2 separate regions of the Homo sapiens genome follow, and region 1 is linked to region 2. Evidence: fine-mapped expression QTL. Tissue or cell type: cerebellar hemisphere. Region 2 holds a variant in brackets; the other region holds the start of a gene. All regions are shown on one strand. Distances are from middle to middle.

Region 1 (8,315 bases), 38 kb after region 2:
TTCTTTTTATTTTTTGTAGGGACAAAGTCTTGCTATGTTGCCCAGGCTGGTCTTGAACTCCTGGGCTCAAGCAGTCTGCGCGCCTCAGCCTCTCAAAGTGCTGGGATTACAGGTGTTTCTGAGCTGCTTCTAACGAGCAGGGCACTGGGAGCAGCCAGGAGCATCCTGAACGCTGCCTCTCAGTCAGTGGGGCCCTGGCTCTTGGCCACAACACGCCCCCAGTGGAGACAGAGCAGGGCTGCTCCACCCAGTGCGGTCACTGCCCAGGGCTGGCAGAGGGCAAGGGGCAGCAGGTGGGTCTAGGGAGAGCCCTTGGCTGGGGGCATCAGAAGGTTTGGGCGCTGCAGTGTCTCCTGAGATCCCCTCATGCACCAGCTGCTGGCAATGTTGTTCTGAGGGCCCTGACAGAGGAGGGGGCTGGAGGCAGGGGCAGCAGGCCTCAGGTCACTCCCTGGCCGAGGGTGCTCAAGAGAGAGCACTGGGCAGGGAGTCGGCCCTCCTGGCTCCGGCTGTCCCTGCCCACTCGCTATGCCCTTGGGCAAGTCCTCCATAGCCTCCAGGCCTCAGTTTCCCAGCTGAGGAGCTGGATCAAGGCCAGCAGGGGACACACACATCAGGGGTCCCAGGAGAGCCTGGGGTGGGATGAGCCAGGCGAGGGGTGAGATGTGGCTCAGATCCAGGCTAGGCCCCTGGAGTGCTGCTGGGGTGACCCCTAAATGACCTTCTGCCAACACCCTGCCTCTGGGGGAGCTGCCCCAGGGATTCTGATTCCCTTGGCCTGGGGTAGGTCTGGAAAGCTGGGGTTTTAACACATTCCAGGCGGCTCCGATTCCCAGCAGCTGGCACCCGTGGCCCACCAGCAGCTCACCTGTGGGAAGCACGTGTCCCCGGGGGCAGGCAGGCACTGGCCCCTGCGCCACCACACTCACAGCTGTAGGGCCCATTTGGTGCCTATAAATCTGTTGTTCAATTGACAAAAGACTCACTGAGGACCAGAGACGGAATCTACAGCACCCCGGAGGTGCCGATGTCAGTGAGGTGGTCACACGCAAAGCAAAGGCGCAAAGCCTGGGGGCTTCCCATGAGTCAGAAACATCCAGGAGAAAGGGAGCCCCGTGTCCCCAGTCCATAGATGGCAGGATGGAGATGTGGAAAAACAGAAACCCTCCCCAAGGGCGGTGCTGGAACCCCAGCTTCTCCCTCGCAGCTGGGTCAATGTGCAGAGGGGCGGGCTCCCTGCATGTCGGTGCACAGGCTTAATGCAAAGCCCAGCTCATTTAAAAATTCAATGTCGGCCGGGTGCGGTGGCTCACGCCTGTAATCCCAGCACTTTGGGAGGCTGAGGCAGGTGGATCACGAGGTCAAGAGATCAAGATCATCCTCGCCGACATGGTGAAACCCCGTCTCTACTAAAAACACAAAAATTAGCTGGGCGTGGTGGCGGGCACCTGTAATCCCAGCTACTCGGGAAGCTGAGGCAGAATTGCTCGAACCTGGGAGGCAGAGGTTGTAGTGAGCCGAGCTCATGCCACTGCACTCCAGCCTGGGTGACAGAGCAAGACTCTGTCTCAAAAACAAAAAAGATTTTCAATTTCATCTCAATAGGATGACGTTGCTCTTTGTGAAGCTGGGAGTGATAACCTCCTTCTGTTCGTGGACGCTCAGGCTGTTTTCCATTTGGGACTATTACAATGAAGGTGGTGTCACCTGTGTGATTATTCCCTCAGAATGGATTCCGAGCGTGAAATCACCGAGTTAAAATCTGTAAGGCCGGGTGCAGTGGCTCACGCCTGTAATCCCAGCACTCTGGGAGGCCAAGGCAGGCAGATCACTTGAGGTCAGGAGACCATCCTGGCCAACATGGTGAAACCCCATCCCTACTAAGAATACAGAAAAATTAGCTGGGCATGGTGGTGCATACCTGTAATCCCAGCTACTCAGGAGGCTGAGGCAGGAGAATCGCTTGAACCCAGGAGGCGGAGGTTGCCGTGAGCGGAGATTGCACCACTGCACTCCAACCTGGGTGATAAAGCGAGACTCCATCTCCAAAGAGACAAACAAACAAACAAACAAAAAACTGTGTGAGTGAGCTCCCCTCTGCTGGGCTGGGGGCCTTCCAGCTGTGAGGATGTCCCAGGCTGGGTCCGCATATCAGTCTGCCCCCTTCTCGGGGGCCTTACAGCCCTGCACAGCACCTCTCACTCCATCTGGGGTGATTTGGGGCCTGGGTTCCATCGGGCTGACCTTGTTTCCCTTTCACCAGCACTCTCACACGTCAGACGGCCCCTCCTTCCCTGCGGACTTGCCGTGGCACCGCTTTCTGTGCATTGGCTGTTGGGATTTGTTTATTCTTGGGTCAAAACCACCTTGTTTGATGGCATTTTACGCTGTAATGATGACATCTTCGTATCTGAGATGGAAGCCCCCCATTGCTCTGCTGTTTACATGTTTTTGTCTGCTGTACTAGTGACCTAGTGCTGCATAGTCAACTGCCTGAAATCCAATGTCCTTGAACAGCACACACGCATGGTCACACGCATCGTCTCTCAGTTTCTCCTCGGGAGCACGTGTGTGGGGTGGCTGCACCTCAGGATGTCTCAGGAGGGTCCCATGAAGTGCTCAGCCCAACTGCAGTCATCGGAAGCCTGGCCTGGGGCGGGAGGGTCTGCGGGCTGGGACTATAGGTGTGCACCGCCACTACTCCTGGCTAATTGTTGTGTTTTTAGTAGAGATGGGGTTTCACTATGTCGGCCAGGCTGATCTCAAACTCCTGACCTCAGGTGATCCACCCGCCTCAGCCTCCCAAAGTGCTGGGATTACAGGCATGAGCCACCATGCCCGGCAGAAATTCAAAATCTTCAAGTGCTGATCCCATCAGAAACGCCCACAATATAACAAGGTGTGAGGAAAGGGCGCTGACCCACACACGCAGGCAGGCTCATTTTGACAACAGGAAAGAGCTGGAAGCATACTAATGGCAAATGATCTTTTACTAATGACACTTTCTGCTTTTTATTTTTCTGTTTTCCAAAAGGAACTTGTGTTATTTTTATCCTCATAAAAAGAAACAAGTGGTGTATTTTTAAAAACTGCGCCACTCAGTAGCAATCTCTTGATGGAGGATCTGTTTTGCGCCCCCGGTGTTGAGTTTCCCAGACTGACCTGTCATCTGAGGTGCTGGGGCTCCGAGCCCCACGACGGCTGCTGTGAGGCCTCCACACTTGGCAAGCAGTGCTGTTCCCCGAGCAGAGCCAGCTCCCCGTGACAGCAGCCTGTCATCAGAATCCCCTGTCCTCATTTCCTCCAGCCCGAGCCAGGACTGCAAACAAGGGGGACAGTACGGAAACCCAACACTCTAGCGCCCACCCCATAGTGGTCCTGGACACAGCGAGAGTTGGGGTCCTCCATGAGGGTCCCCCACACAACATGAGGCTGATGCCCAAGGCTGGGGAAAAACCCTGGGACAGTGTGGGACACGAGCAGGGGAAAGAGCAGGAGCAGGGGCCAGGCTGGGCTGGGCTACGGCTGGGCTACGGCTGGACTATGGCTGAGCTGGGCTGGGCTATGGCTGGGCTATGGCTGGGCAATAGCTGAGCTGGACTGGGCTATGGCTGGGCTATGGTTGGGCAATAGCTGAGCTGGACTGGGCTATGGCTGGGCTATGGTTGGGCAATAGCTGAGCTGGGCTGGGCTATGGCTGGGCTATGGTTGGGCAATAGCTGAGCTGGGCTGAGCTATGGCTGGGCTATGGCTGGGCCAGGCTGGGCTGTAGAGGAAGCATGGACTCAGGGAATCTCTATGGAAGGTAACCCTAAGGGCACCTTGCAGACTTGGCAGTAATTTGTAGGTGAGCTTCCCCTCCATAGGCTGTGTGCATCTCAGGACCAGGAGTGGGGTTCTGTCTCCCTGGGGGCCGCCTGGACCTCTCTGGTCTGTAAGAGCATTAGGACAATCCCTAGTAGCATCAAGAGGCCACAGCCAGACCCAATACTCCCCAGTTCCTCCAGGTCGCAGCACACCTGGAAATGGTCATACTGCTCAGGCCCACATGGCCGATGGGTAGAGGGCTGAGGGCTGAGGGCTTCTCTCCCATGCACCTGAAGTCCCTCAGCCACAAAGCTCTGCTCTGGTCACTGGTGTGAGAAATGTCCAGTGGCCTCTTGGGTCCCCAACTCAACCCACCTGACCTTGGTCAGGGCCTGTGGTTCTGAGCCCATTTCAGTCCCAGGCGTGAGAGCTTCCCCCTGCGACTACCGTGAACCAAGTGCTGGACGGGAGGCTGATAGTCCACTGCTGTATTTTTAGGTGACCCTGTTTCTTAGCCGTCCTGGGCAGCCCCGAGGCCAAGGCCATGGGGTAGCAGGGCAAGGAGCCCCAAGATCTCCCCTATCCACGCTAGCTGGGCGGGGCAACTGAGTGTGGCACCTCCCCTCTCTGGGCAAAGTTTCCCTACCGCCACCATGGACCCCAAGCTCGGAAAGCCTCTGCTGACCAACCTGTGCTTATTCATGATAATCACGTTTTCCCACGTGACAACAGAACAAGAGGACACATAGGTGCCGCTGACATCAACAGCGAGGGCAGCACCTGTCGGTGTCCTGGCCCTGGGCTGAGGGTCTCTGTGACCCCAGGCCCCCACCACGGGCTCCACTGTACTCAACTTGTAGACGAGGAAACAGGTGGGGAAGCTGCATCCCTGCCCCCACCAGCCAGCCCAACCGCGACAGCTTTCACCTGTCCTTGCCCTGGAGCCCTTCCTGATGTCTGTCCTAGGCCACAAGTCCCTGGAAGGCCTCAGTGGGCTTTCTGAGCTAACAGTCACCAAGGAGCCGGCATCTCACTCCTTCCCCCACCAGCCCAGCCCTCACTGCCTGACCCTCCCCTCGCCCTGCAGACAGAGGCTAAAAATACCCTCCCCACGTGGCCACCAGACCAGCCCTGCCCCGCCCTGCAGGCCTCCGTGTCCCCTGGCTGCCGGCTAGGCAGTCCTGCTCTCTCGGGTCTGTGTTCTCAGCTTCGAGGTCCAGGCTGAGTGAGAGGTAGGATCCAGGGGGCTCTGGGGCAGGGGACAGCAGAGAGGGCAGGGGGAACCCAGCCAGGAGCAGCGGGGAGGGTGGGTTAGGCCCCCGAGGCCAGGGATCACAGCAGGGTGCTTTGGAGACGCCCCCTGGCCCTTGCCAGCGGCCAAGCCAGGCTCCTCAGGGTGGGGGCTCAGGAGACAGGTTTCCCTCCATGTCCCAGCCGGAGAGGTGGGAGGGGGAGGCTGGGCCACCCCTCAGATGGCAGCCAGGGCCACTCAGCCACAGTCGCCAGCCTGGCTGGGCTCAGGCCTTTTGTTGTCCTGCCCACTCGGCTTCCTCACTCCGGGCCTGGGCAGGCACTGGGGTGAGGCTCTGAGACCCTCAGGAAGCCCCGACCCATGCAGGGACTGCAGGGTGACAGGTGTCAGCAGGCACCCCGAGGCCCCCAGGGGAAGTGGGGGCGCTCATGCGTGCCTGCCCATCGCCCGGCAGCAGCTGGCCCAAGGGAGCACAACAATGACGGGAATGTGAGGCCTGCAGGCGGTGGCCCAGGGACAGCCCTGTCACCTACTCAGGCCCCAGCTCATCTCCCGGCTGCCCAGGGAGGGCAGAGCCGCCTTCACCGGGGCCAGCGCCTCCTGGGGAGGGGCCAGGCAGGAACCCCATGCATGCAGTGTTGGGTGGGTACTTCGTGTACCGGCCGGGATGCTGGGGTGTGGGGCCCCGGCCACGTGAGCTGCCCTGTGCGCGAGCCCGGGTTGGTCCGCGAGGCCCTGTGGGCTCCCAGGTGCTTCCCCGCTCTGGGGTCAAGAGGTGGCACCGGGGTCGGGAAGTCGGGGAGCCCTAGCTCCCATCGCCTGCACCTGTACCTGCACCGTGGCTGCCCGGGCCAGATTCTTGGCCTCCTGGTTCTCCAGCTGAGCTTTGTCATTTCCATGCGTGGCGTTCCCACGCATTTTGTACCTGTGGACGCGCGGCCGCCTCTCCTGCCCGGGATGGCCCCGCGAGGCGCCCCCTAGCGGGCGAACGGCCTCTCCGCTGCGCAGCCTTTCGCCCTGGGGTGACCCGGGTCGAAGGCTTGTGCACAGACTTGATCTCTCCTAGGGATGGTTGTCTTAGGGTGCGATACCAGAAGGACATAAACCACATGCACATAATTACATGAGCCTGAAAGCGGCCTTGCTGACTTCAACCATGCGGGCGTGGTGACGCGAAACCCTCCAGAACGCTGCCTTTGGCTGGCCGTTTCTGTTTAGCAGCCTCCACCCGGCCACGTGGAATGCAGGGTTCAGAGCCTGGGCCCCCAAGCCTAGCTCTGAGTTCAAATTCCAGCTCCACCACTTCCTAAATGTGTGATCTTGGGCAAGTGACTGAAACCTTCTGTGCCTCAGTCTCCCCAGCTGTAAAAGAGGCAATGATTGCACCCACCCTCCAGGACTGTTGTGGGGCTGAGTGGTGAATGCACAGCTTCTCTGCATGCTTGGCACGTGGCCTGGCACCTGGGAGCACCGCGGGAGCAGGAGCTGCTGCAGCCCCCAAATGGCCTCCCCAGCAATGTGGGATCTGGGACGGAGGACGCCTCCCGGGAGTTTGGGTGTCTCCGGGGTCCCTGGGGGGTGGGCTCAGTGTAGCCCAGGGTTGCAGATGACACCCAGGGCATGGGTTCTTTTGCCAACCCTGTTCTGCCCTGAATGCCTGGCCATGGGTAGGTCTCCCACCCTCTCTGAACCTCAATTTCCTCACTGCAAATGGGAATGACACCTGCCCTACCTTGCAGGGTTCTGGGGGTGGCTTGAGGCAGATGGGGGGTAAAGTGACTGGCATATGGTCGATGCCCATCCTGTGTTTATCAAGGGGTGGAAAGGGCTGATGGACAGACCGGGTGGGTTGCTCAGGAGGATGAGACCATCCCCACTTGGCTGACCCTGCTCTCTTCTCTCCTAGGAGCTCGGGCGGCTCCAGGCACTTCTTCCCTTGAGTGGGTGGACTACTGAGGTCCCCTGGGCACGGCGTCATGGTGCGGAACGTGGATGACCTGGATTTCCACCTGCCCTCGCATGCCCAGGACATGCTGGATGGCCTGCAGCGCCTGCGCTCTCAGCCCAAGCTGGCCGACGTCACACTGCTGGTGGGCGGCCGGGAGCTGCCATGCCACCGCGGCCTCCTGGCGCTCAGCAGCCCCTACTTCCATGCCATGTTTGCGGGTGACTTCGCCGAGAGCTTCTCTGCGCGCGTGGAGCTGCGGGACGTGGAGCCCGCCGTGGTGGGACAACTGGTGGACTTCGTGTACACAGGCCGGCTGACCATCACGCAGGGCAACGTGGAGGCGCTGACACGCACGGCTGCGCGCCTGCACTTCCCCTCGGTGCAGAAGGTCTGCGGCCGCTACCTGCAGCAGCAACTGGATGCCGCCAACTGCCTGGGCATCTGTGAGTTCGGGGAGCAGCAAGGGCTGCTGGGCGTGGCTGCCAAGGCCTGGGCCTTCCTGCGAGAGAACTTTGAGGCTGTGGCACGTGAGGACGAGTTCCTGCAGCTTCCCCGAGAGCGGCTGGTCACTTGTCTGGCCGGCGACCTGCTGCAGGTACAGCCGGAGCAAAGCCGACTCGAGGCCCTGATGCGCTGGGTGCGCCATGACCCGCAGGCCCGGGCCGCCCACCTGCCCGAGCTGCTCAGCCTAGTGCACCTGGACGCCGTGCCCAGGCCCTGCGTGCAGCAACTGCTGGCCTCAGAGCCCCTGATCCAGGAGTCAGAGGCATGCCGGGCAGCCCTGTCCCAGGGCCATGATGGGGTGAGTGAGCGGCTGGGAGGCCCCATCCCTGGGAAGCAGGGAGGAGAGCCCCAGAGACCCCACCTGAGTAGGGACAGAGTAAGGAGTGGACATTCCAAGGTGCACTCTGACCTTGCCACGCTCCTTGTTTTGGGCCAGTTCCCCATGAGGACATCACTATTCAGCCCTCAAGTGCAGATCATGCCTCTGTGTGTGTCACGCCCTGTGTGCAAGGGGCAGGGGAATGTGGAAGTGGTAAGATCTGGCCCTGTCCTGAAGGAGCCTGCAGCTCAGTGGGACAAGCCTGGAAACAGACCTCAGGCAGTGTGGAAGGGCCAAATACATGCCTAGGACGCATTCTGGGTGGGCTGGCAGTCAAGGAGGGCTCTCTGGAGGAGGCAGCATCTGAGCTGGGCCTTAGAGGAGGGATAGGAGCTCACAAGGAGGAAAAGAGGGGAAAACCATCCAGGAAGGAGGTGCAGCTTGTGCACAGGCAAGGAGGCACAGACAGGCCTGGCAGTCCGCCT
Region 2 (8,315 bases):
TGATCTCGGCTCACCACAACCTCCACCTCCTGGGTTCAAGCGATTCTCCTGCCTCAGCGTCCAGAGTAGCTGGGATTACAGGTGCCTGCCACCACGCTGGGCTAATTTTTGTATTTTAAGTAGACACGGGGTGTTGCCATGTTGGCAAGGCTGGTCTCGAACTCCTGACCTCAGGCGATCCACCCACCTTGGCCCCCCAAAGTGCTGGGATTACAGGCATGAGCCACTATGCCCGGCCTTGGCTAATTTTTAAAAAATATTTTGTAGAGATAGGGTTTCCCTGTGTTGCCCAGGCTGGTCTCAAACTCCTGGCTCAAGCAGTCCTTCTACCTTGGCCTCCCAAAGTGCTGGGATTACAGGTGTAAGCCACTGCACCTGGCTGAAATTCTCAGGTTAATTACATCAGCAGTCATTAATGGCTGTGCTTGTGAAAGAAGAGGGAAATGCCTTCTGGCTTAATAGAACTCCCACGTGTCTCTACCATCCAGAACACAGGTGGAGACGTGATATTGCCGGGGCTGCCAGCTTGTAAGGAAGGAGCGGGTCAGGACTCCAGGTGTCTTAGCAGGCAGTTGATTACAAATGCGATTTTCAAGGCCAGCTTTGTGAGGCAGAATAGTGTCTGCGTTTGTGCAGCCAAGGGAGAAAGGAAGCGTTTTCTTCGGCTCCTGCTGTGAGATCTCTCCCCAGCTGCCAGAATGGCCAGTGCTGGAATTCCACCAGGTGGCACAGAGGGAGGGAAGCAGCCTGCGCCCAGCAGGACCCCGGGAAGGGACAGAAGGGCAACCTGGCTGGAGCCCCATCTCAGGGGCATGTGCTCTGTCTCCGCAGGCCACGTGGTGCTTGCGCAGTGCCGAGTGCTGATGGCCAGTGTGGGGGCCGCGTGCCACTCGGACCACGGGGACCAGTAAGTGCTCTTCACAAACCCAGTCCAGGGCATAGGGGTCCTCCGGGCACTGGGTGTGGTGGGCAGGCGGCAGGATCCGGCCACTGGGCCGCACTCTGGCTGGTGAAGGACAGCCCTGTCTGGGCCCTAGGAGGGGCAGAGGGAGGGCTTCCTGGAAGAAGTGACTTCCAAGCTGCCATCTGAAGGACTAGGACTTGTGCGGGAGAAGAGGGCTTCTCGTGCTCAGTTCTGAAGGCGGAGGGAGGGCAGGGCCTGGAGGGCCAGCGTGGCCGGGGCTGGGGAGGGCTGGGGCGGGCTGGGGTGGGCTGGGGTGGGGATGGCCTGAGTGTCAGTGCTTACTTAAACCTCATGGAAGTGGGAGCCCTGAGGGCCATGGTGTGAGCAGACTCAGGTGTCAGATCAGCCATCTGCAAGATGCAGCAGAGATTCTCAGATAGCAGGGCCCGGGTGAGCGGGTGGGCTGCCTGGCGGAGACTGTGGGGTAGAGGGCGTGGGGTGCCCGAGCAGCGGCCTGCTGGCAGCAGGGGAGAAGTGGTTCTGGGTCTGGTCTGCTGAAAACGTGAGGCCCCTGTGGGAGGTCGGAGTGGACGCAGGAGGAACACTCAGGGTTCTGGGGAGAGAGCGGAACTGTAGCCAGCAGCACGTGGCCATCAAGGTCAGGGCAGAGGGATTGTGCAGGAGCACCTGGAGCGAGACAGTGGTGGGCCTGGCTCCAGGGAAAAGGAGGGGCAGGATGGGGCCCTTTGTTGGGGGGACAGTGCCCTGCTGCAGGAGGGGCAGGGGAGGAAAGGGACCCGGGTGTGATGAGGTCAGGCCCCTTGACAGAGCCCACATCTCGAGCCTCCAACAGCCTTGCTTCAGGATGTCCCCACGCAGTCATCTGTTCATGGCTAGATACTGACTGGGTCCCTAGTGTCTGCAAAGCCCCATGCTAGGTGCCATGAAGTTACCAAGTGGCTCAGGTGGGCCGCATGGGTAAGGCACTGTCTGTGTCGGCATCCGTGTTCTCCAGGACCTCAGACCCCTCAAGGACAGGAGAGCCCCTGGCCCCAGAGCTCAGTGCGAGAGGGAGGCAGTGTCACCTGGGAGTGCCAAGTGCAAGAGAACTCTGCAGGGAGAACGGGGGCGACTTTGAGCCACACCTTGATGTGGGTGATCTTAGGGGTGTGCTTGGTCTGGGAGTTTAGCAGGAGGTGGATGCCAGGCGAGGCAGGCGCACATCCGGGTGGGCAGAGCCCCACTAGGGGAGTGGTCCAGAGCAGGGGGGGCTGTGTCTCTTCCATGTGCCCTCAGCAGCAGCTGCAGCTCGGTCTCGCCCTCCCCAGGCCGTCCCCAGTGCTGCTGAGCTACGGTGTCCCCTTCGACGTGGCCAGGAACGCGCTCCGGCTCAGCGTGGGCCGCAGCACCACCAGGGCCGAGGTGGACCTCGTCGTGCAGGACCTGAAGCAGGCCGTGGCGCAGCTGGAGGACCAGGCCTAGCACTGGGGCCGCCTTCCCCACCCCGCTTCTGGGAAGCCCGTGGCAGGGCACAGGGTTGTCCCTCCAGTTCCCTCCTGAGGGCTGTGCCAGGATGACTGTCTCATGCCCCCTCTGCATTTTGTCCTGGAGTGCCAGCGAGTGTGCACCCCCAGTTTCCTTCCCTGGACCCCTGCAGAGCTCACAGGGCCCAGGACACCAACGCCGCATAGGACTGCCCACATGGGACCGCCCACATAGGACCGCCCACATAGGACCGCCCACATGGGACCGCCCACATGGGACCGCCCACATGGGACCGCCCACATAGAACCGTCCTCCAGTGGTGAAGCGGAAACACTTAGCTTTATCCACCCTCCCCACTGGGAACTGGGCACGCCTGTTGTGAGTGCCCTTTCCTGGAAGGTGTTTTTATCTGGAAGATAGAATCCAAGTATTTATAACTCATTGTCAGCCAAATGCTATCATGAACGTAGGAAACTTGATTTTTTTGTTTTGATCATGGCCTCTACATGCACCTTTCCAGAGTGGTCTCTTCTCAGGCCCTTTTTAGTCCCTTTCCAAAGCTGCCCCCACCACCCTGCTCCTCTGGCCTCAGTGCACAGTGGCCCCCAGCCTCGGCCAGGCCTGCTCTGCTCAGCGCCCACCGCCCACCACCCCTCCTGCTTCCCCGAGCCTGACCCTGTTCCGCCCACTGGCAATCAGGGCTGCGCACTTCCCTGTCCACGGTCCCCAGGCCTTCCTGTCTTGTCCCTTTTGATCATTATTAACTCAGGGTTTCAGCTCCAACCTCGCTGAGTTGGTGCAGCTCCAGGTCATTCCTGGGGTGGGAATCGGATCATCCCTGACTCAGCTTTTACCTTAATTTTATTTGCAGAGGATTCTTTTCTCAAAATGCTCTGGCATTTGGACACACATCACATGTCGATATTTGCATAGGAGTCATTTTCAGTGGAATAACATTTTTAATGTGTGGTTTTACGGTTCAAGGAACTACTTGATGATTTTGAGGAAACACTTGCCAGAAACTAAATTAACGAATAAAAGATTTCAGTGCCCGACTTGGGGATCCTGTGGTTTCTCTAGTGGGCACTGCGCTTGGGCACAAAGTCATCTGACAGAGCCTGTCGGGGGGAAGCCAGGGGTGCAGCAGCCCCCAGGTCACCATTGTGTGATGATGCGTTAGCCCAGAAATCCAGCTTGAGGCTG[T/C]GTCTCCGGAAGCCCCTACAAATGTAATGGGTCCCCCATCTGCAGCTTCCCATTGCTGCCAGGAAGAGGCTGTGGTGGTCCTGACTTCCCTAAAGAAGAACTATGGATTGTCCAGAACAATCTGGAAAGGGGTTAAATGTACTTGGGCCCTTGGGGCTGCAGCCCAGAGACTTGGTCCGTGTAGTTGGAGAGGGGGCCGAGGCAGGGGCTGACACCTTCTCGCCTCAGAGGCCTGGACACACCCAAGTCAGGGTCCTGAGCCCATTGCAGGCCCCGTGGAGCCACTGTGTCCCCAGAGATTCCTAGGAGCCTCCAGGGCCGAGGGCCGGGACCCAGAGGCGGGGCGCTCAGCTCTGTGGGTGTCAACACAGCCAAACATGTAGACCTACTGGGCACCCTTTACTTCAGACACACTGTGGTGGCGGCTGGGGGTCTGCCCTTCTGTGAGAGTTGGGGGAACTGTCTCCCAGGCCACTCGGGGCTCCTGTGAGAAGCTCAGTGGCGTGTATCCTCAGCCCTCGCTCCACAGATGAAGTTCCTGCCATCTGGACAGATCTGAGCAGCCTCAGGGCCAGCCTCCTTTCTCTGCTGGCCATACCCAGCCCTGACCTAGCCTGGTGTGGGCCTTTCCCTGTGCCCTGTACTCCATCCTCCCAGCTCCAGGCACCTGGCACCCTCACACTGTGGGAGTGGCTTGGGCAGGTCCTCAAGGCCTGTCCCCCCACCCGACCCCACCCCACCGCCTCCCATCTGCCCTGTGGCAGCTTATCGGGTAACCAGAGCCGGCAGCTTCATCCACGTCTGAAACAGGAAGCCCCAGCCTGTGCATGAGTCGCCACTGAGAGCCCGGGCCAGAGGATGGAGAAGCAGCGGGCACTCGTGGCCGCCAAGGATGGGGATGTGGCGACGTTGGAGCGGCTGCTGGAGGCTGGCGCCCTGGGCCCGGGCATCACCGATGCTCTGGGGGCCGGCCTGGTTCACCACGCCACCCGGGCTGGCCACCTGGACTGCGTCAAGTTCTTGGTGCAGCGGGCCCAGCTGCCCGGCAACCAGCGGGCCCACAACGGGGCCACCCCAGCGCATGACGCCGCTGCCACGGGCAGCCTGGCCGAGCTGTGCTGGCTGGTCCGCGAGGGGGGCTGCGGTCTGCAGGTGAGCGGGGATGGGGCAGCCTGGCTCCACGAAGCTGGCTGGGGTGGAACCAGGGAGGTGTGAGCCACGGAGGATCAGAGTACTGGCCACCCCGGGCTCCATGGCCCTGGGCCCTTTGTTTCTCTTGGGGACTCAGTCAGTGGTTACCGTCTCTGCCCCACGCCTCTCAGAGCACAAAGGCTTGAGAGCCAAGAACACCTCCTAAATTTTCTTATCACCTTCCCTGCCAGGAAGCTGGGCGTTGCCAGTGGGGGTCTTGCCAGATATCAGGACCCCTGTCTCTGATCAGGCCTGGTCCACAGGGCCTGCCTCCCAAAGGGTCTAGAAAGGGATCCTTACAGAAGCACTGTGGGAACTTGGGCTTGAGAGCTGGGAGCCTAGCCCTGGGGGACGGGAGTTAGGGCTGCTGATGGTGATCGTCTTGTCCGGATCGTTTCTACTGGGCCCCCCTCCCCTATCCTGCCTGCCCAGTCCCCTTTGTGCAGGCGAGGCCCTTAGAGCTGTCGCTCAGCCCTGTGGAGCTTTCAGGGCTGAGGGTGAGCAGGACTGACCGGCCTTAGAACGCCGCCGCCCAGAGGTCAGAGTTGAGGTGGGGGCCGGTGGGGCCTGCTTAGACTGCGGAGCGGGAAGGTTCCCCAGCACCTGGCTCGCCAGAGCACCTGAGAGTCCCGGCCCAGCATCCTGTTCCTGTCGGCCCTTCCGCCAAACCCAAGGGCAGCAGGCGGGAGCTGTGCCTGCCTGGGGATCCATTCTGACAGGGCCCTTGGAGAAGGCCCAGGTCTGCTGGACCCCTGACACCTGTGGTAGGAACGCTCCCTGGCCCCGGGACCCTGTGGCCAGCGGGAGGGCACTGGGGCAGGGGACCAGCCAGAGGTAGGTGTCCTGGGAAGCCTTTCTGACCATGAGCAGAGTGGGCAGGTGTCTGCGGGCACCCGACTGCGTGGGAAAGGGCCTTCTCCACACTGGGGACGGGCCCAGGAGAGGGCAGGGTTGCCAGAGGTGGCCTCCCAAGACCTGGACCTGAGTCCTGGCCCTCCTCTCACCTCAGTCCCAGCAGGGAGCACCTCCCTCCATGTTGCAGGCAGAAACGGAGGGAAGGAGGAAGGAGCTGGAAGCCCCTTCACTGGGTTGCAGGCAGTGTGAGCCCTCGCCCAGGGCCCACCTCCGGCAGCTGGCTCTGACCTCACGGCCTACCCCCCACTCACTGACCTACCCGGGGCTTGGTAGGACCAAGATGCCTCGGGCGTCTCCCCGCTGCACCTGGCCGCCCGTTTTGGACACCCAGTGCTGGTGGAGTGGCTGCTCCACGAGGGCCACTCGGCCACGCTAGAGACCCGGGAGGGAGCCCGGCCGCTGCACCACGCTGCCGTCAGTGGGGACCTGACCTGCCTCAAGCTCCTGACAGCCGCGCATGGCAGGTAAGGAGCCCAAAGTCCCGCCTGGGGGGGCAGCCTGGGGCGAGCTGGCCAAGGGGAGGCTGCACCATGGAGGGCCAAGAGGACAGGCTGGTGGCCTTTGAGGTGAATCCTGCAGGCGGGCATGCTGTCACTGTGGGGGTGAGCTGGCAGGAGCCAAGGGCAATGAGGCCTCTACCCACAGGCCAGGCAGTGGCAGTGCCATGCCAGGGCCCAAGGGGACACAGGCCAGTGCTTCAGCTTGGAGAGTGGCTGGGGGCGGTGACGATGGCAAGATGCTGCTGTGATGCCCAGGGCAGCTCTGGCCCCACCTGGGGGCATCTCGGGACCTAAAACAGCTGGGGACGTGGGCAGCTGGCAACCTGTGAGGGCACCCTCCCATCACCTGACAGGAGTGGGGACTGTCTAGTGGACTTGGGGACACAGAGGCTGGAGCTGCCTCTGCACTGCCCCACCCCTGTGCTGGGACCCCTAGAGCCGGGCGCTGGCCTCATCGTCTCTGGGGCCCTGTGCCCCCTGCTGGAATTAGTGGATGGGCAACGAGGAAGGACCAGGGTCAGGACAGCCAGTAAGGCAGATGGCCTCCCTCCCCACCTGGAAGCTCCTCCAGTCCTCGCCCTGCTTACAAAGGTCACTGTTGTCATAGGAACAGGCCCTCTGCCTCCTACTGTCTTGGCTGAGGGCGAACCTTCCTGTCCCCCAGGGACCCACCTACCTCTGACCACGGCTCTTCTCTTTTCGAGGCAGCATCTCATTTTCCTGTCGCTGCCCCAGAGGCCTCAGTCCCCCACACCCCCTTAGCTCCAGGACAAGCCCCGACAGCTTGCTTGTGGAATCGGGTTCTCATTCCCGGGTGTTCCCATCCTGGACTGCTTGGCAAAGGCCTTTGGGATTCGCTTCTGTGGCTTTTCTCCAGAGCGTCCACACCACCCTCAGCCTTGGCTGGCCACAGTCTCTCTCAGACCCACACGGCTTTTAAAGAAGTTTCCACCATTGAAAACTGGGAGACTTGGGCCGAGCACAGTGGCTCATGCCTGTAATCCCAGCATCTTGGGAGGCTGGGGCTGGAGGATTGCTTGAGCCCAGGAATTCAAGACTGGCCTGGGCAATGTAGCGAGACCTCCATCTCTACAAAAAAATTTATTTAAAAATTAGCCAGGCATGGTGGTGACTGCCTGTAGTCCCAGCAACTCAGGAGGCTGAGGTGGGAGGATCACTTGAGTCTGGGAGGCGGAGGTTGCAGTAAGCTGGGATTGTGCCACTGCACTCCAGCCTGGGCGATAGAGCAAGACCATGTCTCAAAAAAAAGAAGAAAACCAGGAGGCTTCATGTTAATATGCACACACACACGCACACACGCACACACAAATGGGAAGGTCCTGTACCCCCGGCCTAGTTCCCGCCTGGCATTGACCAGCAGCAGCCGAGAGGTGGCTGCCCCTGGCCAGACCATGCCCCCTCCAGTTGCCCCCGACCCACTGGCTGCATCATGGCCTGCTCCCAGCCACCGCGCTGGACACCACCTGTTCCAACCCTGGATGCAGTCAAGGACACCTGGCAGAGTCTGGTGAAAGCACGGATCCTCCCCTGAGAAGGGCACCAAGGCATACTGGCAGCCCTTTGGGGCACATTCCATGAGGGAGTGGACCCTCAGGCTCTGCAGGTGCAGGGGACGATCCCTGTGTGGTCCAAGGCCAGAAAGCAGCCACCAAGGTCCTGTGTCCCCCTTGCTAGGAGCAGGGGAGAGGCTGCTAGGGGGCTGGTACTGGGGGACTTTGTGAGGGGAGGGGAATTCAAACCCAGGTGCAAGTCCCTGGACAAATCAGCTCCCAGCCTCTGTTTCCCCTCTGCCAGCTGAGGCCTGTGACTGGACTCTCCTCTGGGGTGGACACTGAGTTGCTCAGATTCGTCTATCAGAAGTGGGGAGCAGGTGTGGGGGTGCTCGTGAGATCCCTTCATTACTCCTCAGCTTCCCCTCCTGAGAGGGGAAGGGCCCGGAGGTGGAGGGTCTGGGACAGGGTGGCGTGGTCAGCAGGCTTGGCGGGAAAGCAGGCACGAGCCCGAGAGTTGACCCTCCCCGGTGACTTTGGCCCTGCCTCCACGCCGCCACTGTGACCCCAGCCCAGCCAGTGCAACCCTCAGCTCCACAGCTACCA

Direction of the effects. Positions count from the first base shown, and alleles are read on the strand shown. Sizes are in standard deviations (SD) of each study's normalised expression.
In carriers of allele T in region 2, the expression in cerebellar hemisphere of the gene that starts at base 4,949 in region 1 tends to be lower than with C alone (large effect, 0.88 SD a copy in GTEx).

Evidence for each region. PIP is the estimated chance that this variant, and not a neighbour inherited with it, causes the effect.
Region 1: it holds the start of KLHL30, and the variant in region 2 is fine-mapped to the expression of KLHL30 in cerebellar hemisphere (GTEx, PIP above 0.99). The same link has a PIP of 0.9 or more in cerebellum.

What each region holds. Positions count from the first base shown.
Region 1 is chr2:238,133,720-238,142,034 of GRCh38, forward strand. It overlaps KLHL30 (kelch like family member 30), which reads left to right and starts at 4,949. Exons shown (of 8, transcript NM_198582.4): 1 at 4,949-5,039; 2 at 6,966-7,809. The coding sequence starts at 7,036. RefSeq lists an enhancer at 7,205-7,718.
Region 2 is chr2:238,095,970-238,104,284 of GRCh38, forward strand. SCLY (selenocysteine lyase) reads left to right here. Exons shown (of 12, transcript NM_016510.7): 11 at 832-907; 12 at 2,233-3,444. The coding sequence ends at 2,386. ESPNL (espin like) reads left to right here and starts at 4,371. Exons shown (of 9, transcript NM_194312.4): 1 at 4,371-4,744; 2 at 5,972-6,162. The coding sequence starts at 4,451. It overlaps UBE2F-SCLY (UBE2F-SCLY readthrough (NMD candidate)), which reads left to right. Exons shown (of 19, transcript NR_037904.1): 18 at 832-907; 19 at 2,233-3,444. RefSeq lists enhancers at 211-878, 879-1,547, 1,548-2,215, 2,216-2,884, 2,519-2,813 and 1 more. The variant T/C (reference allele first, on the strand shown) is at 3,593.